Homo sapiens: one gene and its partners. The protein of the gene in region 6 purifies or fractionates together with the protein of the main gene of each other region. This does not show direct contact. Each region holds a gene or a part of one and is shown on either strand. Other genes may lie near its edges. The genes, in order: KRR1, TFB1M, TBC1D3G, DDX55, PYM1, PIP5K1A and TGFBR3.

The links.
Region 1: the proteins of PIP5K1A (region 6) and KRR1 purify together in Homo sapiens (co-immunoprecipitation; one large-scale study listed by IntAct). This does not show direct contact.
Region 2: the proteins of PIP5K1A (region 6) and TFB1M purify together in Homo sapiens (co-immunoprecipitation; one large-scale study listed by IntAct). This does not show direct contact.
Region 3: the proteins of PIP5K1A (region 6) and TBC1D3G purify together in Homo sapiens (co-immunoprecipitation; one large-scale study listed by IntAct). This does not show direct contact.
Region 4: the proteins of PIP5K1A (region 6) and DDX55 purify together in Homo sapiens (co-immunoprecipitation; one large-scale study listed by IntAct). This does not show direct contact.
Region 5: the proteins of PIP5K1A (region 6) and PYM1 purify together in Homo sapiens (co-immunoprecipitation; one large-scale study listed by IntAct). This does not show direct contact.
Region 7: the proteins of PIP5K1A (region 6) and TGFBR3 purify together in Homo sapiens (affinity purification with mass spectrometry; 2 studies listed by BioGRID and IntAct, with this or other methods). This does not show direct contact.

Annotation. Positions count from the first base shown.
Region 1 is NC_000012.12:75,501,610-75,505,109, forward strand, and holds part of KRR1 (KRR1 small subunit processome component homolog), read right to left. Parts: intron 2,466-3,500; coding exon 2,295-2,465; intron 2,255-2,294; exon of another isoform or gene 392-2,254; coding exon 314-391; exon of another isoform or gene 208-313; coding exon 114-207; exon of another isoform or gene 1-113. UniProt on the Homo sapiens protein: Part of the small subunit (SSU) processome, first precursor of the small eukaryotic ribosomal subunit.
Region 2 is NC_000006.12:155,290,485-155,293,984, forward strand, and holds part of TFB1M (dimethyladenosine transferase 1, mitochondrial), read right to left. Parts: intron 1-3,500. UniProt on the Homo sapiens protein: Mitochondrial methyltransferase which uses S-adenosyl methionine to dimethylate two highly conserved adjacent adenosine residues (A1583 and A1584) within the loop of helix 45 at the 3-prime end of 12S rRNA, thereby regulating the assembly or stability of the small subunit of the mitochondrial ribosome.
Region 3 is NC_000017.11:36,330,384-36,333,883, reverse strand, and holds part of TBC1D3G (TBC1 domain family member 3G), read right to left. Parts: intron 3,437-3,500; coding exon 3,316-3,436; intron 2,603-3,315; coding exon 2,508-2,602; intron 2,124-2,507; coding exon 2,058-2,123; intron 1,595-2,057; coding exon 1,495-1,594; intron 1,125-1,494; coding exon 972-1,124; intron 9-971; coding exon 1-8. UniProt on the Homo sapiens protein: Acts as a GTPase activating protein for RAB5. Does not act on RAB4 or RAB11.
Region 4 is NC_000012.12:123,608,599-123,612,098, forward strand, and holds part of DDX55 (ATP-dependent RNA helicase DDX55), read left to right. Parts: intron 1-81; coding exon 82-231; intron 232-1,340; coding exon 1,341-1,530; intron 1,531-3,500. UniProt on the Homo sapiens protein: Probable ATP-binding RNA helicase. Has ATPase activity and is involved in the maturation of precursor large subunit rRNAs.
Region 5 is NC_000012.12:55,921,395-55,924,894, reverse strand, and holds part of PYM1 (partner of Y14 and mago), read left to right. Parts: intron 1-1,123; exon of another isoform or gene 1,124-1,454; intron 1,455-3,500. UniProt on the Homo sapiens protein: Key regulator of the exon junction complex (EJC), a multiprotein complex that associates immediately upstream of the exon-exon junction on mRNAs and serves as a positional landmark for the intron exon structure of genes and directs post-transcriptional processes in the cytoplasm such as mRNA export, nonsense-mediated mRNA decay (NMD) or translation.
Region 6 is NC_000001.11:151,197,354-151,201,351, reverse strand, and holds the start of PIP5K1A (phosphatidylinositol 4-phosphate 5-kinase type-1 alpha), read right to left. Parts: upstream 2,801-3,998; 5' UTR 2,356-2,800; coding exon 2,271-2,355; exon of another isoform or gene 2,226-2,270; coding exon of another isoform or gene 2,165-2,225; intron 1-2,164. UniProt on the Homo sapiens protein: Catalyzes the phosphorylation of phosphatidylinositol 4-phosphate (PtdIns(4)P/PI4P) to form phosphatidylinositol 4,5-bisphosphate (PtdIns(4,5)P2/PIP2), a lipid second messenger that regulates several cellular processes such as signal transduction, vesicle trafficking, actin cytoskeleton dynamics, cell adhesion, and cell motility.
Region 7 is NC_000001.11:91,708,152-91,711,651, forward strand, and holds part of TGFBR3 (transforming growth factor beta receptor type 3 isoform a precursor), read right to left. Parts: intron 633-3,500; coding exon 512-632; intron 1-511. UniProt on the Homo sapiens protein: Cell surface receptor that regulates diverse cellular processes including cell proliferation, differentiation, migration, and apoptosis.

The DNA of each region.
Region 1 (3,500 bases), on a different chromosome or scaffold from region 6:
TGCTAAGAGAACTGATGAAAAGATACAACTGTTTCTTAAAAAGATTCAGACAAATTTATTATGGGTTTACTTTTCCTAATTAATAAAGACTTTTACATCATAGAAAGCATTACCTTCCTTAGGTTTCACAATTGGTTTTTCCTTAGGTGGAATAAATGCTTTGTTTCTTTCCTCTTGTCTCTTACTGATGGCTTCTGCTTGTTTAGCCTACATTAATAAATAAAAAATATATCAGTTAAATGTATTTATAGTTAAATAATTCAAGTATCTATGAACTTTGCTATTCATGTGAGCCAGACATAAAGTGCCGTACCTTTATTGCTTCCATTTTCTGCCGCTTCTTCTGATTTGCCTTCAAAAAGTATTCACCACTAGCCAATTCTTTATCGATCTGTTGAAAACGGTATTTACAATTACATCAGAAATAATGTAGAGGAGAAGTCATGTCCTAAGCAAGTCACAATATCCTTAGGGTAAAAACAATGGGGTCAAACTGATTTATTAATAAAAATGGTAGTGACATAAAGGAAACAGAGTCTAAGCTGAGGGGAATACATACACAAAAGTGTGGAGGTAGGAAAGCACCTCCATGGAATACAACCCAGAGTAGTTCAGGGATATGGCATGGAAGGTCACTGATTCAGAAAAGTGTGAGAAGAAACTGGAGAGAGAGTTTTGGGGAAAATTTGAAGAAGCTTCAATGGCAGACAAAGTAGGAGGGATAAGATTTAGAAATGACTGTAGGTTTCTGAGAAGACTGTAAAGACCAAAGAATAATTTTAATGGAGAGGAATGAAGAATAGATGAGAGCCTGGAATAAAGGTAGTGGCATGCAGAATAAAAGCCAGAACTATCAGGAATTGGTGACTAATTAGCAAAAGCAACAGCTTGTTCATTCAATATACAGCCAACATGTAAAATGTGTATAACTGACCTGTCTCCCACTTACATAGCATTATTATATCTAAGGCACTGTTCTAAGCTCTTTATAATTACTCATTTAATCCTCACTAACAATTCTTTAAGATAGGTATTACCATTACTCCCACTTTAGGTATGGGGAAACTTAAGTATGGATGGGATAAATAACTCGCCCAGTCACATAATGAATTAAGTGTTAAGAACAAGTCAATCGAGACATCACTGTTTCAAGAAGCTTACACAGCTACAGAAGAAAGATAAGTCAATTACTACAAGAAAGGGCCATAAGAAATAAGGCAGGTGTTATGGAAGCATGGTTTAATGACTGCATCACTCCACTTTCCCCCTAACTACTATCAATTTCCTCCATGATCCAAAACTTCCATTGTTTTTTCACTATGATCATCATTTTCCCCGTCAATCACAAATCTTCCCTGAAAGACTCCAACCATGGTTGTGGAAAAAAGAGATGTAGAAAGCAATGAGTTCACATGCTGAGCAGAAGTAGAAAGGGAAGGCTTTAGGATATAGCCAAGGAAGGGAATAATGAAGCAAGAACCCCCAGGAGACAGGTGAAGATGGAATTCAAAGAACACATAGAAGAGGCTGATGCAGGTGGAAGAAAACCCATACGTGAGAGAAGAGGAAACAGAAAGGGGTTCTTATCTGGTGGTCTCAAATATTTCAATAAAATGCAATGTCATATGCTAAACATGGGAGGGCACTGAGAGAATTAAGAGGAAACATGAATTTTGAATGAAATTAATCCAAAGATAAAACTTTCTCTAACTTAATTTGGTAGCCACGTTGCAAGGAAGAAGTCAAGTTTTTAGACTGATCCAAGTTTTAGAGCTTTGCTGAGAAGGTGGGACAGAAGTAAAAAGGGGCATGAATCAAAACAATGATGTGCAAGAACAAAATGGAAACTGGTCATGGTGGGAAAGGAAATGAAGCAGAAGACACCTGACAAAAGGAATCATAACTTAGAAAAACGGTGGGTGTTACAATTTACAATTTAAGATTTCAGAACAAGAACAACCATAGAGCACACAGTCACAATAATGTTGCCAAATCAGAGAAAAGAGTATTGCAGACTAAACGAACTTTTATCCATGGAACATTTACAGTGGCTACAGGGTCACAAACCTCCTGGATGCAGTTTATAATCAATGTGAACGCCCCACTGCACACCCCCATGCACTCAGCTCAAAATATGCCTATTTATATTTACCCTCAGTTTCTTATAGCTCTGCACACACACACACAATATATATATATACACATATCCCACCTGAAATACTTTCAATAAAGTTTCTGACCAAATACATTAAAATAGATTCTCCTTCATATGAAGTTCTACATTTAGTACTAACCTGACTTTCTGGTTGTGGTGGTGGGAATGGCGTATATTCTTTCTTAACAGTTTTTTTCTTTGGTTCCTTGCGTTTATTCACATTTTTGTGTTTGAACTGTGGCAAAAATCTCTCCCAACTTTGTGATCGTAATTCAGAATCTTTTGCCAACTCTCTCTTAATCATTAAGCTCTTTAGTCATGCAACAAAGTAAAAATTTTTACTTTCCAAAGTCACACATTTGTCAGACTCAGACATTATAAATATTGCTTCTATAAATAATAAAAGAAACAGTTCCTAGTTTCTTTGGTGAAATTAAACCAATTACATAAGCAAAAAGGTAGGTTATCACAAACATGTATAATTATTAGAAAACCATTAGAAATTTAATTACAAAATGCAGAATTGTTAAAATGAGACAAAAATAAAACTGAATTTTCAACCATTATTTCATTAAAACATTTAAAATGCCACTTATAAAAGCAGGGAGGGCTCTTAATTAGCTGATGTTCCCTGCAAGCAGGAAGTTTTCAGTAGCAACTGAAATATCACAGAAAAAGACAAAAGTAAACTTTCTCACGATTACAGAAAACCAGTATTTTCACATTTCCCTATTCCATTTAAATTTCAGACCATGGAACATCAGAGGATGCAAACCAGGGATCAGACACATAGTTTTGTTTTTGTCTGCAATATCCCAATATCCCAATGTAACTCAAAATCACTTTCCCCCAATCTAACAGTGACTTTATAACTTAAGTTCATCAAATTTAAGTGGATTGCTCAACAAACCCATCATAAAATAGTTCTATATACCATGGTTACATTTCCAAGAATAATCAAACTTTGTGCACACAGGGATATAACAGTTCTCTCTCAAAGGAGCTACAATTTGAGTGTTAAATTCATAAAAAGGTTTTAACGCAACATGAGATGTTCCAGATTTTAATAGAAAAAGGCAGATTTCCGAAAGATCATATCCTTAAATACATGGGTTCATAATCTAAGAAAACTGGATTGATATGATCTACAACAGATTCTGTGAAGCTTACTTTCATTGATTACAACTATATAACATATTACAGTATCCCCTTCAGTAGTTTTCACACTGTGCTCCACAGAGAGCTTCTAAGAAGTACCTACAAAACTGGGGTAGAATTAAGTAGGCTGAAGTCTACCCCTAATTTACCCAAAATAGCTCTGCTTTATCTGTTTGTGCATTAGAAT
Region 2 (3,500 bases), on a different chromosome or scaffold from region 6:
GACCAGTGTTACCTAGACTTCTAAGGCATTCCATAAATTATAGACTCTATATAAACTCTTCTCAATATTCATGCTAAAATTGAACTAAAATCAACTTTTTTTGTTAAAGAAAAAGAATTGCATATGGTGAAGTCGAAGCAACACTATTATTAATAACCACAACTGACATGCTGAGTCACCGAAAATATTACTCCACCTCTTCTTAAGCCTCTGTTTCTTTGTGTTTCCCCCCACACAAATAGAGTACATAGTATTTTGTATCTCTATTGTGTTATTCAAGAGCAGAAATACCAAAATAATCATGTCGGCTGAGAAAAATAAATCCACAGATGTGGTTTAATAAGAAATATATTTGGACTTTGTCGCTGGCTCCTAAAGCCCTTGAAATTTCCTGAGTAATCGGCATGTCTTGCTTTAAATTCACAAGTCCCCCAGAGTTTACAGTAATGAGATAACTTAGGATGAGGCCTCTAGGTAGCTCAAGATGGGGCTGGTCACTGAGACCAATTGATTACCCATTACTCAAGTGTAGGTAAGGTGTTTCCCTGAGTTTTTGAGCCATTCTGAAAAATGATTCAATCTGAGGAGGGGGACATGGAACCCTCTGATTTATTTTATAGCTGGTCGCTCAGAACTCCTAGAGGCCCAGATTTGTGACTGTCATCTGAAGTGAGGCGCAGTCTTGTGGGACTTGGCCCTTAACTTGTGGGATCTAACACTAAAAACATGTGGACAGTGTCAGAATTGAATGAAACTGCAGGATACCCAGCTGGTGTTCGGAGAATTGGAGATTGCTTGGTGTGGAAAAAACCCACACATCTGGTGTCAGAAGTTGTATAAGTGCAGAGGAAACAAGAATGGTTTCTGTCAGAACCAACATATCCAAAGGTTGAGAAAAACAACAAAGAAAACTCAGCATGGGCCCAATTCAAACCAACCCAAGAGAATTAGCAGGTTCATGAAGAGGAAATGACAAAGACCTTAAGAAAAGTGGTGATATCATCTCAGGGTTCCTAACAAACATGCAACGGTCCTACGTTTTTATGATGGGAAGTTCCAAGACTCCTGAGAGAAAGATTTTATGGCCAAATCATCTAAAGGAAAGTTTTCCAACCTTGGCATGACTGACATCTTGGGCTGATTAATGTTGGGTGGTTCTTCGCTGTGGGAGGCTCTGCTGTGCACTGAAGAATGCTTCCCAGCATCCCTAACCTTCTATCCACTAGAGACCAGAGCCCCCTCCCTGGTGTGACAACCAAAAACATGTCAGACATTGCCAAATGCCCCTGAGGAGCAGATAAGGCAAAAGTGCCCTTGTTGGAAATGATTCCCCTAAACAGAAACAAGGGTAAAAAGAGAGGGATAGATCTAAGAAATGAAATTCTTATGATACACTCAAATTATCTGAGAGGAAGGCATTTAAAGAATTAAGCTTATGTAGTAGTAGAGTCTATTGATTTCAAACAAATTCTGGCATTAAAAAGTTTTGTTCTGAAACAAGTATAAAGCTGAATAAGTCATAGGAAACAAGAGTTTGCATAAACAGGACAACAGGTGGAGCAGGACTGTCATTACTGAAATGGAAAGGAGATGAGCCTTAGATGCCCGGCCTGAAGAGGACTGGAGGCCCTTCTCAGGCTGCAGCAGAGGCAGGGGGCAGCTCAAACTGAGCCTAGAGGTCTCCTGGGCTCAGGGAGCCAGACCTGGAGATCTGGGAGGCCTCGGCAGGCAGAATTTGTGGGGCAGACTACCAGAGACATGGAAAACGCACACACGCGGTGCTCACACGTGTGCAGGAGCAGCGGGTGGGGGAGACAGGAACAGGAGAGGGAGAGAGAATGTGAGGCAGAGCTCCTGAGGTAGCAAAAGGGTCCCAAGGGTCCCCCAAGTCCCCTGCTGAGCACTGATCTGCAGGTGCCTGAGGCTTGGGAGCCTGAACTAGAACCAGGGGAAGGCAGGAGCAACTGGGGCTCACATGGCTCAAGAGGCCTTGTAACATGCAGGGCGTTGGGTGCCTTCCTCAGAAAGGGCATGATGTAGTACTGGGGCTCAACGAGCCCCAAATTAAAAGCTACCCTGGATCCACCAGAACAATAAAAGCCTCAAGCAATCTTATCTATGTGTCACAACAAACCCAACACTCAACCCAATACCACAAAATCCAGCCCTCATCAGCATTAAAAAAAATAAAACTCTCACAATACCTGATGTTTTGTCAGAAATTATCAGGCTTTCAAAGAAACAGAAAAATGCAACCTATAGCAAGAAGGGGAAATCAATCACTAAAAGAGTACAGAAATGATAGAGGTAATGAAATTAGCAGGCAAGGATCTTAAAACAGCTACTTATTTGTTCAATTTTTTGAGACAGGGTCTTGCTCTGCCGCCCAGGCTGGAGTGCAGTGACATGATCACGGCTCACTGTAATTTGATCTCCTGGGCTCAGGTGATCCTCCCACCTCAGCCTCCTGAGTAGTCGAGACCACAGGCATGCAGCACCGGACCTGGCTAATTTTTTATTTATTTTTTGTAGAGACAAGGTAACATAGGGAGCTATGTTACCCAGGCTGGTCTCGAACTCTGGGCTCAAGCAATCCTCCCACCTTAGCCTCCCAAAGTGTTGAGATTACAGGTGTGAGCCAGCACGCCTGGCCAAAACATCTACTTTAAATATCATACATACATACATACATAGAAAAATGCCAAGGAAGGCATGAATGTAATGAGGACAGAAAGAGAAGATCCAAAGACCCAAATGGAATTTAGAGATAATTTTTTTTCATAATAGTTAACCAAATATCCATGCATTTACTTAATTCTTTCCTTCACTGCTGATTTTTGATCTGACCATTATCAGATACTGCTAAGGTGTCTGCATCGGGCTTTCTAGTCTAGTAATTGCTCTGTCACGTGCTGCTTCTCATACTGCTTTAATTATTAAAGCTTCACCATACATTTTAGCATATGACAAGGAAGTCTTTTCTCATCACTCTCCCTTTTCAACATTTCTTATGTATTGTTGCAGGTCTATTCCTCCAGATGATCCTTAGAACTGCGTATTTCAAGATAAGTTCTTTGAGGATTATAATTAGATATACAGAATTCTTGGAAAAATCAGCTTCTTTAAAATAATCATTTTTCCTTCTGGGGCTATGATATTTTTCTGGATTTATCTCAGTGACCTTGAGATTCTCAGTTAGGTTTTGTAGTTATTTTTATATATGTCTCTCATTTTTTCTTAGGTTTTCAAAATAATTATTTATCTCCAAATAATATTTTTGTACTTCTCATTCCAATAATGGTATATTTCCCTTGATTCACTCCCTGTTATATTTAGTTTTCTATTTATTTATCATGAATTCAATCTTAAACTCTCCTGAGTTTTTGCAACTTTTTTTTGACTCTATGCAAACTTGACAGTAGTTTTATCAAATTCCCCTTTTAATTGGCTCCAATCTGGACTGGTTGTTCTTCCTGAGGACTCCTTTCTCTCTGTCCTGT
Region 3 (3,500 bases), on a different chromosome or scaffold from region 6:
GGGTTTGGCTGAAAGGAAAACAGACGCGGTCAGCATCTCCAGTGAGCCCACGCAGGCCTTTCCGGGCTGGGCCCCACCTGCCTGCGTCTCTGGAGTCCTCGGGGTCTCTGTGTGGCCCCCGTGGCCTGACACCGAGGACACGCCTGTAGTCTGCTGATCCCAGAGGGAGGGGTGCATGCTGCCTGGCGTGGGGAAGCTGTCGTGGCATGGCGGGTGGCTCCTGGGACTGCCCCCAGGGTTCAGACTGGCTGGGGGCTTCCTGCCACACACCTTCGTCCCAGGGCTGTTGGGCCTGGGATACGGCCCCCAGTCAGAACTCAGGTGGGAGGGGCCTTGGATGTCACCCAGCCCCTTGTCACCTCACGTGGGGACCCGTCTCCGCAGTGGGTGATTGGGCCCGGACGTGGGTCACCCTCTGCCCTCCTGGGCTGCCCAGTCCATGCCAGGACTGACCGTTCCCACTTCTGGCTGAACTCTTGGCTCTGGCTCTGGGCCCTCTCCCTGAATGCTCTGTGGGTCAGGGACACGGATTCCCTTGTCTCCCTGGCTCCAGGCTTCTTGTCCTGGCAACCTTGGAGGAGCGTGCAGGAGTGAGGGGCCTCTGCTGCTCTCTGAGGCTGTGGGTGCTTGCAGGGAGGGGCGGGGTCTCCCACAAATGGGTCTGGGCTCGTCTAGTAACTTGGAGGGCCCTGCGAGGGGGAGAGGGAGACACCGTGGAAAGTGGGAGGGGGCTTGTTGGAGGGTCTTGCCCACATCCCCCTCCTGCATGCACAGCATGTCCAGTATACACGCACTGAGCGCCTGCCCTGAGGACCGGTGGGCCTCCTGTACTTTCTTAGAGTCCAGGAGGAAGAGGAGGAAGAAAAGGTGAAGAGGAAGGCCCAGGTAGTAGGGTTGCGGGTCCCGGGCACTCCCCTACTACTGACTACCCCAGAGGGTGACATGGGAGGGGACATGGCACTGGAGCCCACCTGGGGGTGGCAGGTCCCCCTGCTTTCTTGTTAGTTTCTTCATAGAGGCCCTAAGATGCTTGAGCACAGTGTCCTCATCCCTGGCCCAGGTATCAACGAACCGGTTGCAAAAACGTGCCCACGGGCCACACCTGGACGTCTTCGTGAGGCGCTCTAGGGACAGGGTGGATATCAGGCCAGGGGAGTTACCTGGGAATGGTCACAGCTCATATCCCGTGGCCACTTCAGTCTCCTACTGGGCGGTGCCGGATCCTTTTGTGGCCACCCCAGGTGTCCAGATATACACAGGAGACTGTGGCTGGGGGGCGATCCGGACAGGGAAGTGCTCACCACACTCTCGACTTTCATCTGGGTCATGTGGGGGATGGGCTCAGTGTCACAGTGTCCTGCCCAGCCCACCTGGCCAGACCTCCCTCTGGGCCAGAACAGCGGATCATGAGGACAGTGTGAGGAAGCTGCCCTCGGGCCAGTCGGGGTCTGACCCCAGGGCTCCCCAGGCCCCGCTGGGCACACGTAGACTTACTCTGCTGAACCTTAAAGGCGATTCTTGTTATCGGCATCAACGCCTGTTCGCCTTCTACCAGATACACGTCCCACAGGCGCAGGGTGAGCCCGAGAGAGATCTGTGGGGACAGCAGGTGTGAAAGAACCTGGTCCTTCCAGGCTGGGGCTGGTGGCTCGAGCTGCGCACACTGGGGCTTCAGTCTCCAGAGTCAGTGACCTTCCCCATGAGGGTCGCCTGAGCCCTCCAGGACGCTGGGTCAGACAAGGTCTTGAAGCTCCTCATGGGGGGCACTCATTTGAGTGGGGATGTGGCTCCTGGAGAGAGGGGCTTGCCCAGGGCTTGAGGCTTCCCTGAGCCCTCTCAAGTCGGGTCCTGGCCCAGTCTGCCCATGAGGCTGGGCCTGAGCCCCAGCCATGGCCCTGGGATGACCCCCCTTGGGCAGAGGGTTTTGCTTGTGTGTCCTTTGGGGACCCGCCTGAGCCTCCTGTGGGCTGGGAGTGAGCCAGACCCCCGGGCTGGGGAAGCAGGGCACTGCAGGGCAAGGAAGGTCCCTGAGCCAGGGTCTCCCTATGCCTCCTTACCCCGTCAATCAATATCCGGATGAGGCAGCCTAACGGGGAACACTGCCCACATAGATCTTTCTTGTCCTGATGGAAGCAACAGAGGTGCTCAGGCCACTGGGCTGCCCTAAAAACCTCCCTCTTCCAGGGCCTCTGAAGACCCTTCCCCTAGTGCAGAACACTGGGCGGTGTCCAGAGCTCCCCACAACACTGTCACCTTCCCACACTCCCGGTGGACACACTGCCCTTTGCCCTGCTCTGTGGGAGCTGGGCCCCCATCCCTGTGCCTCTGTCTCCTCCAGGGCAGGAAAGGAAACCAACTCCCAGCCCATGGAGAACCCGACGTCCCAGGTCAGGCCCTGGCTGGGACTCAGCCAGTCACCAGCCCCACGAGGGGCTCCAGCCCCCCTGCTCCTACAGCCCCACGGGAGGCAGGGCCTCTGGGAAGAGCTGAGGGGACCATAAACTCACCTGATGCCCCATGGTCTTGGGTTGTGACGTGGCTACCACATGCTCCTGTTGGTCTTGGAGCCCCTGGACGGTCCCGCCATTTGGGCTGTGAAATCCTGAGAAGCCCCCAGCCCATCATGAAATCAGAGCCTTCCCCCAAGATGTGGAGCCATCAGCTGCAAGAGCTGGGCAGCTGGAGAGGCCCCCAAACCCCAAGGCCTCCCACCCTCCCATCTGGTGACCCCAACATGCGGCCTTTACCCTGGGGAGGTGGGGCGGGAACATTCCCTGGAGCCTGGCTGGAGGTTCCCCTGGAGGCCTCCTGGGCCAGGGTGCAAAAAGGGCAAGCCTGACTTTCAGGCCACGACAGGGTGGCCGGAACTGGGTGGGCGCTGGGCTTCCCGGTCATCTCCTGGTAGTGGGGTCGGGCCAGGGAACAGGGGATGGGGAGATGCTGCCACCTGGGCTTGGTCGGCCCATTCGTGGGCACCGATGGCAGCAGGAGCCCGGGCAGCTGGAGGGCAGGAGGACTCTCAGGGAGGGGAGAGTCAGCTGCACAGAATCAGAGCCGGAGGGCGTGGCTCCAGGACACAGAGGGTGGCCACGGGGAGGATGAGATGCCCTCTGCTGATGGGGATGACAGGCGTCTGATTTGGGCTTTGGGGGTCAGCCGTGGACTCCTGTGGGACCCTCAGCAGAGACATCCTAAAGTCTCCCAACAAGCTGGCGACACAAGGAGGGTGCCTTGGCTGAAAGCTGTGATCACCTGGCCAGGGTGGCCATCCCCAGGTCTGGCTGCAGGAGGTCCCCGGGGCAGCTGTTCACTTACCCTGCAGGGAGTGCCTCTCACTGGCCAGCAGCTGCACCAGTGCCCAGAATGCATCCTCCTCAGGAAGATAGAGGAGGAACAAGGCGGCGATGTGGCTCAGGTCCCTGCAGTAGCCCACCTCCTGCAAGAGCCAGAGTCACCATGGAAGGACATCACCTGGGAGGGCTGAGGTCACCTGGGAGGAC
Region 4 (3,500 bases), on a different chromosome or scaffold from region 6:
ATAAAACTTGGTATTTTGGTAATCATCAACCACATTCCCAAGATCCAGAGAGTTTGGTAAATGTTAACTTTCTTTCCAAAGTGGGAACATCATTGTGGCCACTCCAGGCCGCTTGGAGGACATGTTCCGGAGGAAGGCCGAAGGCTTGGATCTGGCCAGCTGTGTGCGATCCCTGGATGTCCTGGTGTTGGATGAGGCAGACAGACTTCTGGACATGGGGTTTGAGGCAAGGTACTGGACTTTGGACTTCACTGGCTTGAGTGGGCAGATGATACTAATACAAAAGGGGAGCAAAATGGAGTTTACTGTTTCATGACTAGGTATTTTTATTTTTTATTTTCATTTTTATTTATTTTTTATTTATTTGTTTATTAGAGACAGGGTCTTGTGCTGTCACCCAGGCTGGAGTGCAGTGGTGTGATTATGTTCACTGCAGCCTCAACCTCTCGGGCTCAGATGATCCTCCTGCATCAGCCTCCCGGGTAGCTGGGATTACAGGTGCACACCACCATGCCTGGATGGTTTTTTTATTTTTTGCAGATGAGGTTTTGCCATGTTGCCCAGTCTGTTCTCAAACTCCTGGACTTAAGTGATCCTCCTACCTAGGGTACCCAAAGTGCTAGGATTACAGGTGCCAGCCACCATGCCTGGCCTAAGTATTTTTATTAACCACATTTTAATTTCAAATCATTAAGTAGTTTGAGCTTTCAAATTCTACCACGTGATTTTATTCCAGTTCTATCTTTGATCTTAAAATGCACTTTCCTTCAAGTTTTTTTTTTTTTTTTTTTTTTGAGACAGGGTCTCACTCTGTCATCCAGGCTAGAATGCAGTGGCATGATTTCGGGTCATTGCGACCTTTACTTCCTGGGCTTAAGTGATCCTCCCACCTCAGCCTCCTGAGTCATCTGGGACTACAGGCACATGCCATCATGCTTTTTTTTTTTAATTTTTGGCAGAGACAAGATCCCATTATGTTGCCCAGGTTGGTCTCAAACTCCTGGGCTCAAGAGATCTTCCCATCCCAGTCTCCCGAAGTGCTGGGATTACAAGCATGAGCCATCACACCTGGCAGTTTTGTTGTTTTTTAATAAACAGCTTTATGGGATATAATTCACATATCATTATAATTGTATGCTAAAATTTGAGGAACCTTGGAAAAATGAAAGTATAAAGAAGAAACAAAGAATCACCTATAATCTCACCTCCCAGTGTATGTGCTATAAATATTTTGATGGCTTCACTTTCAGTCTTTTTGAATACCTGTTTAGTATCGTGAAGCACTGTGTGTTGATTCTGCTGGCAAGTGAGCGGTTAAGTGTGAGCCCTCTTTTTATCAGCATCAACACCATTCTGGAGTTTTTGCCAAAGCAGAGGAGAACAGGCCTTTTCTCTGCCACTCAGACGCAGGAAGTGGAGAACCTGGTGAGAGCGGGCCTCCGGAACCCTGTCCGGGTCTCAGTGAAGGAGAAGGGCGTGGCAGCCAGCAGTGCCCAGAAGACCCCCTCCCGCCTGGAAAACTACTACATGGTAAGCGCCTGGGCTTGCTTCTTACTCAGCGATAATGACCAGTGCTCATTTTATGGAAATTGTACTGGTAGAATAAATATGTGAGACCCTGTAGCACCTATGAAATGCATTTGGGGACAGAGCTAGCTAGGGCAAATGGCCTGAGTGGTCCTACTCATTGAATGAATAAGTTAAATTGGACATAAATGTATTTTAAGCACAGTCTCTAAGGACAGAGTCTCTGAACCTCCTACCCTCAAGTGACCAAATGTTTCTATTGTACATGCTTGGGGTGTGCTGGGTGCAGCCATGACTAAGCTCTGTAGTTCCTGGGCCCGTCAGAACAGCCTGTCTGACAGAGAAGGGCATAGTTAGATGTGCAGGTGGAACACAGAAAATCAAATGACAGACTCACTCCTAAGGAGACTTTGTGGGGTGGAAATGTTCTGCTCCGTAAATGTTGTGTATTTTTGACCTGCATCAAATATGCTGAGTTTCTTTTTTTTTTTTTTTTTTTTTTTTGAGACAGAGTCTGGCTCTGTCGCCCAGGCTGGAGTGCAGTGGCGCGATCTCAGCTCACTGCAAGCTCCGCCTCCTGGGTTCATGCCATTCTCCTGCCTCAGCCTCCCGAATAGCTGGGACTACAGGCGCCCGCCACCACGCCCGGCTAATTTTTTGTTAGCCCTGTTAGCCAGGATGGTCTCCATCTCCTGACCTGGTGATCCACCTGCCTCGGCCTCCCAAAGTGCTGGGATTACAGGTGTGAGCCACCGCGCCCGGCCGTTTTTTTTTGTTTGTTTTTTTTTGTTTTGAGACGGGGTCTCACCCTGTCACCCAGGCTGGAGTGCAATGGCACGATCTCGGCTCACTGCAACCTCTGCCTCCTGGTTCAAGCAATTCTTCTGCCTCAGTCTCCCGAGTAGCTGGGATTACAGGCATGTGCCACCATGCCCAGCTAATTTTTTGTATCTTTAGTAGAGGTGGGGTTTCACCACATTGGACAGGCTGGTCTTGAACTCCTGACCTCATGATCCTCCTGCCTCAGCCTCCCAAAGTGCTGGGATTACAAGAATGAGCCATCATGCCTGGCCCAAATATGCTGAATTTCTAGTAGTAAATACTGGCTGCTGGCTTCTGTAGTTTCTTCACAAAGAAGTAGATGGGCTTTTGGCAACTTGATTGTTTAGTAATGAGGCCACTCCTCACCCCTGTTCTGTTCTGTCCCATTGCTGGGATGGGCCAGGAGGCACAAATGTAGAGAGCACAGGCTGCAGGGGAGGCAGCACCATCAGGGCGAGGAGGCACCCACAGGCCAGTGCCACTGCTGACGGTACACTGGCCCACCAGCCCGGGGCTGGGGCTTTTCTTTCTCTTTTGCAATAAGCTTTCTCAGGTTAAATTTTTCGTTAGGCCTGGAGGGGTTCCCTAGCTCCTGAACATGTCTGCTGTTCAAAATGAAGGAGGCTGGTCTCGAAACCAGAATGTTCCTATTGCTGCAGACTGTGAGGTTGTCGAGGCTGCTCTCCGGTTTGTGTCAATTTGTAGGCAGATTAAAGGTAGAATGAGTTTGCAAATGAGAAACTGCACCTAGTGTAACTGGAGAGTGTTGTCAAAATCAGATAGGCTCATCAGAAGTGGGAGTTGTAGTTGCCATTGATGTTTCTGACAAGCTGGACTGGGTGAGGGAGGAGGCTAGCTCTTCCCAAGCAGAGGGAAGGACTCTGCATAGGGTAGTGTGGAGAGCATGGGCGCTAGAGCAGGACTGCCTGGTGCATATCTTGGCTTTGGCCCCTACCAGATTTAACCGATGAACTTAGAGGTCCTTACTTGTCAAATGGGGGCCACAGTAGTATACAGCTTCGTAGGGTTGCTGCAGGATTAATTAATTAATCCATGCAAAAATGTTCATGATAGTGCTTAGTACACAATAAGTATGGGTTGAGCATTCCTAACTTGAAATTCCAAAATCCAAAATCCTCCAAAATCTGAAG
Region 5 (3,500 bases), on a different chromosome or scaffold from region 6:
TGACCAATATGGTGAAACCCCGTCTCTACTAAAACTACTAAAATTAGCTGAGTGTGGTGGCATGGTGGCGTGGGCCTGTCATCTCAGCTACTCGGGAGGTTGAGACAGGAGAATCGCTTGAACCCAGGAGGCAGAGGTTGCAGTGAGCTGAGTTCGCACCACTGCACTCCAGCCTGGGCGACAGAGCGAGACTCTGTCTCAAAAATAAATAATAAATAAATATTTAAATTTATTTTTTATGTTCTTCCATAGCTGTTTCCCCAACCTTTTCCAGATCTGTGTGACCATCCCTTTTAATTCTCCTTCTTTTGGCAGAAGACTTCATTTTTATTTCACTGAAAACTCAAGGCCTATCATTTTTGTTTCCTTTTTCTTCACAGCCAGATTTTGTTTGTTTCTTTCTTTTTTTAAAAATGAAGCGATGCAGACTTGCTATGTTGCCCAGGCTGGTTTTGAACTCCTGGCCTTAAGTGATCTTCCCACCTCAGTCTGCCAAAATGTTGGGATTACAGGTGTGAGCATGCACCTGGCCCCAGATTTCTCGAATATGAAGAAATCTCCTGATATTTCTGTTTCCTTGCTGCCTATTTGTTCTTAACTCTTTGCAGTCATTATTTCTAGCACTACCCTCTCTCGAGTTGCCTATGCCTTTTTCTAATTGTTTCGTGAATATCTTCACTCTTGGATATACTGTTATACCTCAAATCCAACCTGACCAAAACCAGTATCAGTTTTTCCATCACTATTTCTGTTAAAGGCACCATTATTCTAGCCAACCCAAGGTAAACTTTTGTATCGTTTCTTTTTTTTTTTTTCTTTGAGACAGAGTCTCACTCTGTCGCCCAGGCTGGAGTGCAGTAGCGCGATCTCGGCTCACTGCAACCTCCGCCTCCCTGGTTCAAGTGATTCTTCTGCCTCAGCCTCCTGAGTAGCTGGGATTACAGGCACATGTCACCACGCTTGGCTAATTTTTGTATTGTTAGTAGAGACAGGGTTTCATCATATTGGTCAGGTTGGCCTCGAACTCCTGACCTCGTGATCTGCCAGCCTTGGCCTCCCAAAGTGCTGGGATTACAGGCATGAGTCACCACGCCTAGCCATTTCTTTTTTTAATATTCTAAATATACTTGATTTTTTAGAACACTTTTAGATTTATAGAAAAATTGAGAAGATGCTACAGAGATTTCCCATATACCCTACACTCAGTTTCCCCATTACTGTCATCTTACGTTAATATAGTACTTTGCTTGCAATTAATGAAGCAATATTGATATATTACTATTAACTAGAATCCATACATCATTTCATTAGTTTTGTTTTTTTTTTTTTTCAGACAGGGTCTTGCTCTGTCACCCAGGCTGGAGTGCAGTGGTGCAATCACCATTTACTGTAGTCTTAACTTCTGGGCTCAAGTGATCCTCACATCTCAACCTACTGAGTAGCTGGGACTACAGGTACACACCACCACGCCTGGCTAATTTTTGTATTTTTTGTAGAAATGCGGTCTTGCTCTGTTGCCCAGTCTGATCTCAAATTCCTGGGCTCAAGCAATCCTCACGCCCTGGCCTCCCAAAGTGCTAGAATTACAGGTGTGAACCACCATGCCTGGCTGATTTCCTTAGTTTTTACTTAATTTATTTTTATATTTATTTATTTATTACTATTTTTTTGAGACGGAGTTCTGCTCTTGTTGCCCAGGCTGGAGTGCAATGGTGAGATCTCAGCTCACCGCAACCTCTGCCTCCCGGGTTCAAGTGATTCTCCTGCCTCAGCCTCCTGGGTAGCTGGGATTACAGGCATGTGCCACCATGCCCGGCTAATTTTGTATTTTTAGTAGAGATGGGTTTCTCCATGTTGGTCAGGTTGGTCTCAAACTCCTGACCTCGGGTGATCTGCCCACCTCGGCCTCCCAAAGTGCTGGGATTACAGGTGTGAGCCACTGCGCCCAGCCTTTTTACCTAATTTTTTTTTGTTGTTCCAGGATCTTATCCAGGGTACTACATAACATTTAGTTCTCATGTCTCTTTAAGCTCCTCTTGGCTGTGACATTTTCTCAGGCTTTCCTTGTTTTCCATGACCTTGAGTTTTGAGGAGTACTGGTCAGGTATTTTGTAGGATATCCTTCTATTGGAATTTGTCTGATGTATTTCTCATGATTAGATTTGGGTTATGTGTTTTGGGGAGGAAGACCACAGAGGTAAAGTGACATTTTCATCACATTGTATCAGGGTACATAGTATCACAATGATTTTTTACTGTTAATATTTTTGTTTTTTTGAGACAGGGTCTTCCCTCTGTTGCCCAGACTGGAGTGCGGTGATGCCATCATGGCTCACTGAAATCTTGACCTCCCAGTCTCAATTGATCCTCCCACCTCAGCCTCCTGAGTATCTAGGACCACAGGCGTGTGCTATCATGACCAGCTAATTTTTTTTTTTTTTTTTTTTTTGGTAAAGATGGTCTCACTATGTTGCCTGGGCTGGTCTTGAACTCCTGAGCTCAAGGTATTGTTCCCCTTTGGCCTACCAAAATTCTGGGATTACTAGGCATGAGTCACTATGCCCAGCCTGTTAGTATTGACCGTGATCATCTGGCAGAGATATTGTTTGTAAGGCTTCACTGTAAAGTTAGGCTTTACCCCCTTCCTTTCCATACTGTAGGGAAGTCACTATTGCCAGCCCACGCATAAGGAGTAGAGAGTTGTGCTCTCCTTAAAAAAAGAGATTAAGGGCTGGGCATGGTGGCATATGCCTGTAATCCCAGCACTTTGGGAGGCTGAGGCTGGAGGATTGCTTGAGGCCATCCTAAGCAACATAGCAAGACCTCTTATCTACAAAAAGATTTAAAAAAAAAACGAGCTGGGTAAGGTGGCACACACCTGTGGTCCCAGCTACTCAGGGAGCCTCAGAGGGGAAGATTGAGCCAGGGAGGCTGAGGCTGCATTGAGCCGTGATTGTGCCACTGTACTCCATCCTCAGTGAGAGGCTGTCTCAAAAAACAATTAAAAAAACACACTATTTGGCATTTTTCTGCCCAGGAGATTTTTTTCTTTTCCTTTATTAATTTATGTATATCAATATGGACTTATAGATGTGTATTTTATATGTTAGGTTATAATCCAATACTATTTTATTTGCTTTATTGCTCAAATGTTCCAGTTTTGAACATTGGGAACTCTTTTAGTTTTTTACTTGGCCCATCTCCCTTTGACATTTGCCATCATTGCAGGTATGATTTTGTTCTCTGCTCCAGTCCTGCGGTCTGCCATTTCTCCAAGAAGCCCTTGTTCTTTTTACTAAAGAGTAATGTTAAAAACTAAGATCTGATCACTAGGTGTTTTTATTTCTATGGGAGTATTTTTTTTTATTTATGGGAGTTTTATTTTTTTATGATTATTTTTATTATCATCTTTTACTTCTCTCTTGCCCTCCTCATGTATATCAGTTATCAAAATATCATTCTTTTATTCCTACTGCTGTTACCCTTATCCCATCTACAGT
Region 6 (3,998 bases):
AAACATTTATACAATCTGTATTATTAACTGTTAGTGAGAGGATCTGACAGAAAACATAAAGACCTACAAAAATACCAAAGAGTACAAAGCAAACACCTGACTTAATAGTTGAGAAGTTTGTTTATGGACCATACACAACCCTTCTTCTTTCTGGGTTGGGGATTAGAGGGGAAGCAGGTTTCAAATTAAGGAGCTACTCTATTAAAAATAAAAACCCAGGTGGGGCACGGTGGCTCACGCCTATAATCCCAGCACTTTGGGAAGCCAAGGCGGGCGGATCACAGGGTCAGGAGATCGAGACCATCCTGGCTAACACGGTGAAACCCCGTCTCTACTAAAAATACAAAAAACAAAATTAGCCAGGCGTGGTGGTGGGCGCCTGTAGTCCCAGCTACTCGGGAGGCTGAGGCAAAAGAATGGCGTGAACCCGGGAGGCAGAGCTTGCAGTGAGCCGAGATGGCCCCACTGCACTCCAGCCTGGGCGACAGAGCGAGACTCCGTCTCAAAAATAAATAAATAAATAAATAAATAAATAAATACCCTGTCACTTTTACTTTATCCTATTTCATGCTTATAATGCAGCATGAGTTGTTCTGGTCCCCTAATACTTTTATAGGAAAGGTAAAAAATCCCCTCTCAACAAACTAAAAATAGAGATTTATTAAAAATAAATAAAACTGCAGCTTATTAAGAAGATATGTGTGACTAGATATTTCAGCATCTGAGCTGGAATGTGAAAGGTGGAAGGAACCCTATTCAGCAAATTCTAAACAGCAAAAACGCAACACCAGGCCTGAGGAAATACCAAAATCTCAAGCAAAGCATCCAACATCTGGCAGCGTCTATTCCAGTGTAGAAGCAGCAGTTACTGTGAAACACCAGACACTTCTGATGGAAGCGCTCAGTTTCTGACTCACCTCCCGCCCCCCCACCCGACACACATACACACACTTTCTCCCCTACACACAATCTACTGCTTTTCTTGTGAGCCTCCTCAGCCCTCCCTCAATCTTCATTCGTTTTTAACTATTAATACGCTGAGCTCTCTACATTAACCTGGCTCCATTCTCCAAATTCCAATCTCCTGATACAGCGTAAGCATTCTTCCAGTCCATTTTTCTATTATGCAATACTCCCCCACAACACTTACAGTCACCCCCCCACCCATCTTTCTTCTTCTCAGGCCTAATTTCCAAAACATCACTTCTCGCAGTCTCTACTGCAATTCAAGACTCCATTCCATCTTTCCCATCTGTTTTTAAGGTCTTTGACCTTAATTTCCTACATTCCTTAGACTCTCTTCAAAATTTCCATTCCTTCCCAAAGTTGGGCAGTTTAGAGTTGGGAATCACCAAAGGAATTAGTCTGAGAAAGTATGTATGTGTGTCTGTGTGCCTGTGCGGCCCTAAGGGTGGGGGTGCGAAGTGAGAAGGGGTGACACATTAGGGGGGAGTATCTGAGGGAAAAGATGGCTTCAACAACTCCCGCCCACCCAACAAAATTCACGATTCCCTACCTCTCCAGAAATCGAAAGCGTCCAATAACTTTTCGATATCTTTTAAGTCCCATGGCTTCTCTTCAACATTTTCATCCAATTAGCCCACAATCAACTTAGATTCCACCTGCCTCTCACACTAAGTAGTTCTCTCTACTTCTTAGGCCTCCATTTACTTTCTTAGTTTCTCTACTCCCTTCCGTTTCTCTTGTTTCCTACCGCAACTTCTTTTTTTTTTTTTTTGAGACAGGGTCTCACTCTCTCGCCCAGACTGGAGAGCAGTGGCCCAATCTCGGCTCACCGCAAGCTCTGCCTCCCAGGCTCAAGGGATTATCCTGCCTCAGCCTCCCAAGTAGCTGGGATTACAGATGCACGCCACTACTGTCCGGATAATTTTTGTATTTTTAGTAGGGACGAGATTTCTCTATGTTGGCCAGGCTCGTCTCGAACTTCTGACCTCAAATGATCCGCCCGCCAAGGCCTCCCAAAGTGCTGAGATTACAGGCGTGAGCCACCGCGCCGGGCCACCCTACCCCCACCTTCAATCTCCATCCGTCCTCCTCAAAGACAACCAAAGTTTTCGACAACTTCTTAATCAAACTTATCCTTTCCTCAAACTCCTGCCCGCTCATAAATCCCTATTTGAAAGCCCAGCTCGCGCCCACTTACCGGTAACACGTAGGACATTCCCAGCTACAGGTACCCTCTTAGGTCTCGCTCTTCCTCCCATCGCATATTCCTCACCAGCTCCCTACCCACGCCCTGCCGGGCTTACCTGAGGACAAGGTACAGGAAGGGACCGCGGGATCAAAGGATGAAAAACCGACCGAAGACGACGGCCCGGAGGAGGCCGACGCCATCTTAGCAGCCCCCTCCCCCTCAGCGGCCTGGCTCTCTTTCAATCCGGTTCTTCCTCTTCTCGGAATCGAATCTTCCCAACGTCTCTTTACAGAACCCGCGTTCTGTGGGCCACCTCCCCGCCCCCTCCGGGGCCTCCCTCAGACACGTCGAGCCGGCTCCTGGACCAGCTCAAGGCCACACCATTCGCCTGGCATGGGGAAGAACTCACGTCCCGCACCCCCTCCACAAGTTTAACCGCTTTCCACAGGGGATACTTTCCCCTTTCACAGAAGAGTAAGCTTAAGCTGGCTGCTGGGACCTTGCGCCCAGACCAAGCCACATCTGAAAAAAAAACGAGGCATGAAAAGTCCCAAAGGAGCGAACGCCCCTTCTCCGTCCTTCCTAACCACGGCCTGTTAATCGCCCAACCCGGCCGCTTCACTCCGGGTAGCCAAGCAAAAAATCCGAGCACTGCGCATGCGCCCGACCTTCTCGGGGCATCAGCCCACTCATTGGGGAGAAAAAAGGAGCAAAACCAATCGGGAGGCTGCTAATGGTCACGTGAGGTGGGTCCTCACGCCCTGACGAGTCCACGGGTGGAAGATGTGCGCGCGCGGGTTGGCCGACAGTCCCTACGGTGGCTCGGCAGGTCCTCTTAGGTTCAGTTCTTTGCTAGGACTGGGTCGAGTGATCTGAACTCGGGACAAGAGTCGGTCCGCCAAGTCCTCTGAAATTCCTAACCCAGGAAAGAACTCTCTGCGGGAGTACTGGTGTCAAGTCAGAGACGTTAAGGTGTCGAATATCACAAAACATTTAATACCACCAAGAACTCTTCTTAGTCTTTTTCCTGTTTTACTACTCTTGTTTACTATTTGATTAAACGTGCGTGCATGTCTTACCTTCCTCGGAATGGCATTCGAAATAGATCTGTGTTTTGTTTGCCTCAAGCACAAAGTTAGGCACTGCACAGTGACGGAGTTCAGTAAATATTTGATGCATGAATCAGTGAAGACCTGTCAAAAAAGGGCACGGGAGGCTATCAGGGACTTATCACAACCTTCCCGCGACCCAACCCCTTTAGCCTCCAACTGTCAATTATCTGTGCTCCAAAGGGCATGGAGATACACAGAAAAATTTCTCCCATTGTAGTCTTCGTAGTAACTGCTCGTTTTTAACAAAGTACCCCGTAGGCTATGAACCCTGGTGGGAAGACCAGTCTCTCTGAGCAGACTGTAAAACTTCTGGGGAGCAAGGACTGTGTTTGGTTCACTCTTGTATCTCCAGCTCCTCCAGTGACTTCGTACATAGTAGGGGCTCCATAATTATCTGTGGAATGAATAAATAAAGAGGAATGGTAAAACATTCGGGGTAAGAGTCGGTCAGATAGATCCTCTCAAACTCATGGCCCATGAAATAACTCCATTAAAACAGGTTTTGTGGCCGGGCGCGGTGGCTCACGCCTGTAATCCCAGCACTCTGGGAGGCCGAGGCGGGTGGATCACGAGGCCAGGAGATCGAGACCATCCTGGCTAACACGGTGAAACCCCGTCTCTACTAAAAATACAAAAAATTAGCCGGGCGTGGTGGCGGGCGCCTGTAGTCCCAGGCTACTCGGGAGCCTGGGGCAGGAGAATGGCATGAACCTGGGAGGCGGAGCTTGCAG
Region 7 (3,500 bases), about 59 Mb from region 6:
TGAAAACTGAATTTTAAGATGCATTTGGGCAGTGGTTCTCATCTGTTACACCTAAGATGAATAATGTTCACATATTCTCAAAGGCATTTGCAATTTTGATAAAGCAATACAATAGGTTATAGCCAGCATAAACTTTAGCAGTAGATCACAGAAAGATGAACTGTGGATTGTGTGCAATTCCCGGGACATGGGACTAACTAGAACCCTTTTTTGCATACTCAAGGAAGCATATTTGAATGCAAGGGAGAGTGACCTTATGACAGGAACAACCTAGACCTGATTCTTTTTACAGAGGAAATCATTTTCAAATAGATTACTTACAACTAAGCCATAATGGCTGTAAGAGAACCAGCTAAAGAAAAGACTCTTCGGGCAAAAAATGGTCTTCTAAAGTAACTAACTGGCCCTTTAGTTATCTTGTGAATAAAGCTGGACTTTGATTTACACTATTGGGTCTTCTTAACAAGCAGAGCTCAGGCCCCATGCTCTGATCGTGCCTCCCAAAGCACACCTTTAGATTCTGCTTCATGGTGGATCACAGCAAGGGGCTTAGTGAACGTCTTCTTATTCTGCATCATGGCCCAGATTATCGAGGCGTCCAGCGAGGTGCAGGCTTCGTCAGGAGGCACACACTGCAGACAGGCAGAACAAAGCACAGAATCAGGGGCCACTCAAAAGTGCCTTCACCAGCTCTACCTGCACAGCTGTCCTGTGGCCTTTTATCAGACAGCACACAGCTGTTCACTACAGAAAAGCAAGAAGGTGGGTGTTTTTCAGAGAACACCAAATAACCTGGGAGATATGACAGCAGGCCCAGTGGATTTTTGGTTGTACCTGAAGATGCAAATATCACTGGATAGCTTCTCAATATTGTCCTCCCCCTCCCCTTCTTCTCACAAAACTAAACATTTTAGTGTTAGTTTGAAAAACAGAAAAACTATATGCCTAGTGTTGGTCCTCACCAAGCTGGGCTTCATATACACGGTTCATGTTTGTGATTGGTGATTGTGGGAAATTTCCCATAAAGACGCTCCTCAACTTATGATGAGGTTACATCTTGACAAACCCACTGTAAACTGAAAATATCACTAAGTTGAAAATGTGTTTAATACACCTAAAGTACCGAACAACACAGCTTAGTCCAGCCTACTTTAAACATGCTCAGAACACTTACGTTAACCTACAGCTGGAAAAATCATGTAACACAAAGCTTATTTCATAACAAAGTGTTGAATAGCTCACATAATTTATTGAATACTTAGATTGAAAAACAGAATGGTTGTATGGGGACTGTCTATACTGCATTATGAAGGTGACAGATTTTACATTTTTCTCCAATAAGATAATCATGTTGCTGAGTTTGTTTCATTTTTAATCCTGGTATAGGCTCATGTAAAACTAAACTTTCCAGGGTCATCTGCTTTTAATGTTTCAAAATGCAGATCCTGGGGGCTGTGCCCAGGTTGTGGAGGCCATGAGATTAGCCGCTTCAAACCTATTAATGAGCATGCTCAGGCCCACTACATCTGTTTTGAAAAAATATGATCACACTCCGCACTTTTTCTTTAAAATAACTTTGTTTTCTTGTCTATATTTATCAATAGGTATAGTTCTTTTTTATTTTTCTTGAGACAGGGTCTTGCTGTGTTACCCAGGCTGGAGTACAGTGGTACAATCATGGCTCACTGCAGCCTTGGCCTCATGGGCTCAAGTCATACTCCTGCCTCAGCCTCCCCAGTAGCTGGGACTACAGGTGTGCACCACTACACCCAGCTAATATATATATAGTAGTGACAGGGGTCTCACTATGCTGACCAGGCTGGTCTCGAACTCCCAGCAAGCTGCCAAGCTCAGCCTCCCAAAGTGCTAGGATGACAGGCATGAGCCCACGCCCAGCCTAATAGGTATAACTCTAAAGTAAATGACAGCTTCTATGGTAAGAAGACATATTAATACAGCCATCATTTTAAGTCTATAGCAGGCATCCCAAAAAGCTAATCAAGTTCCATCTTTTCCAAACACAAAAGAGCAAAGACTTTAGGCCTTGCTGTCATTGCTGCTCTGAGCAACATGCCAGTCAGACACTTCTTATAAGACAACCCTCACTGCCCTACTCTTACCCCCTCAAAAAGAGAAAAGCCTTTAACAAGAGCCCTCTTGTAAAGAAAAACAACAAATTTTCTGTGGAGAGGCATGATGACTGAAAAGAGTTGCATTTTGCTTTCCTGTTTTAGTTTACTGTTACTTTCCTATTGAGCTCTTCAGTTAAGCAAGAGTCTATGATTCCGCATTTAACTCAGTGGAGTGTGACCCTGGGCAAGACACTCTGCTCTCCGGGTCTCGGTTTCATCAGCAAAGGGCAGGGTTGGTCTCAACAATCTCTGAGATCTCTTCCTAGAAGATTCTTTGGCGCTCTCTATTGTCACAGAAAGCACTCAGAAAATAATAGAAATGTGAAAATATTACCTATAAGCAGCAAACAGAAAGACAGTGGTAACAGCTCATCCAAGCCTCTGCCAGATAAAGGGCTGTCATTGTACATACTGTCCTATTTGCTCCTCTACCCAGGAGGGAAGCCAGGTATGATTATAACAGTATATGAGGAAATACAGGCTCTAAGGGGTCCAGAGACTGGCTTAAAGTCCCATTGGTGGCAGCAGAGCTTCCTTCTCAGTCCCAGGCTCTTTCCATGTTATCTTACCTTGGGGGTAAAGGGCGACTTGAGGTTTAGGGTTATATCCCATCATGTCATCCCCTGAGGCTTAGAACTCTCTTTACGATTAATTTTCCCAGATTAACACACATGAAGCTGGGCTGTTCCAGGCCAGGTCAGAGAGAAGTAACAGCCAAAGCCACAGCAAAGATCCCTGGTAACTGCTAGGTCTCCCCTCCAAGACCTCTAACCCTTAAACGTTACCCTTCTGCCCACAGGAAGCAGCTGGTCCCACAGCCACACATGAAGCTCCTCATGGCTCTCTACCACTGTCCACTAAGCCCCAACCCTGATGGTGAATGCCTACAAGGCTAAGGCATCACCGCCGCAAAAGCAAACCTAGGAATATAGTCTAAATCACTGTATATGTGCTCCCCAATGATTATGATCATATCTGCTCTATTTTCGTATGCAAACAAAATTCTCTTGGGTGTTATCAGAGAAAAGGATGCCCAGGGGACTATAATGATGCAAGGAATTCAGATCAATTGTAATCTATTTGGAAATGGTGGTTTTTCCTCCTACCTCCATACCTAAGACTTAAAATCTGTGAGTTAAATGAGAAAATTCCATACATACATTATTAATAACACTGCTTGATTCTTAGCCTTTTAGACATTGATATATGACTGCGAAAGGACTGGAAATCAGTTTACTCTGTGTGAGATAGCCACAGAATAAATGCACATATGAAATTATACATAATTATGGCAGATCACAGAAACAAAACTATGGCAGAAGATACCTTTCATATACAAGACCAACCTAGTGGGTATCATAGTTAACC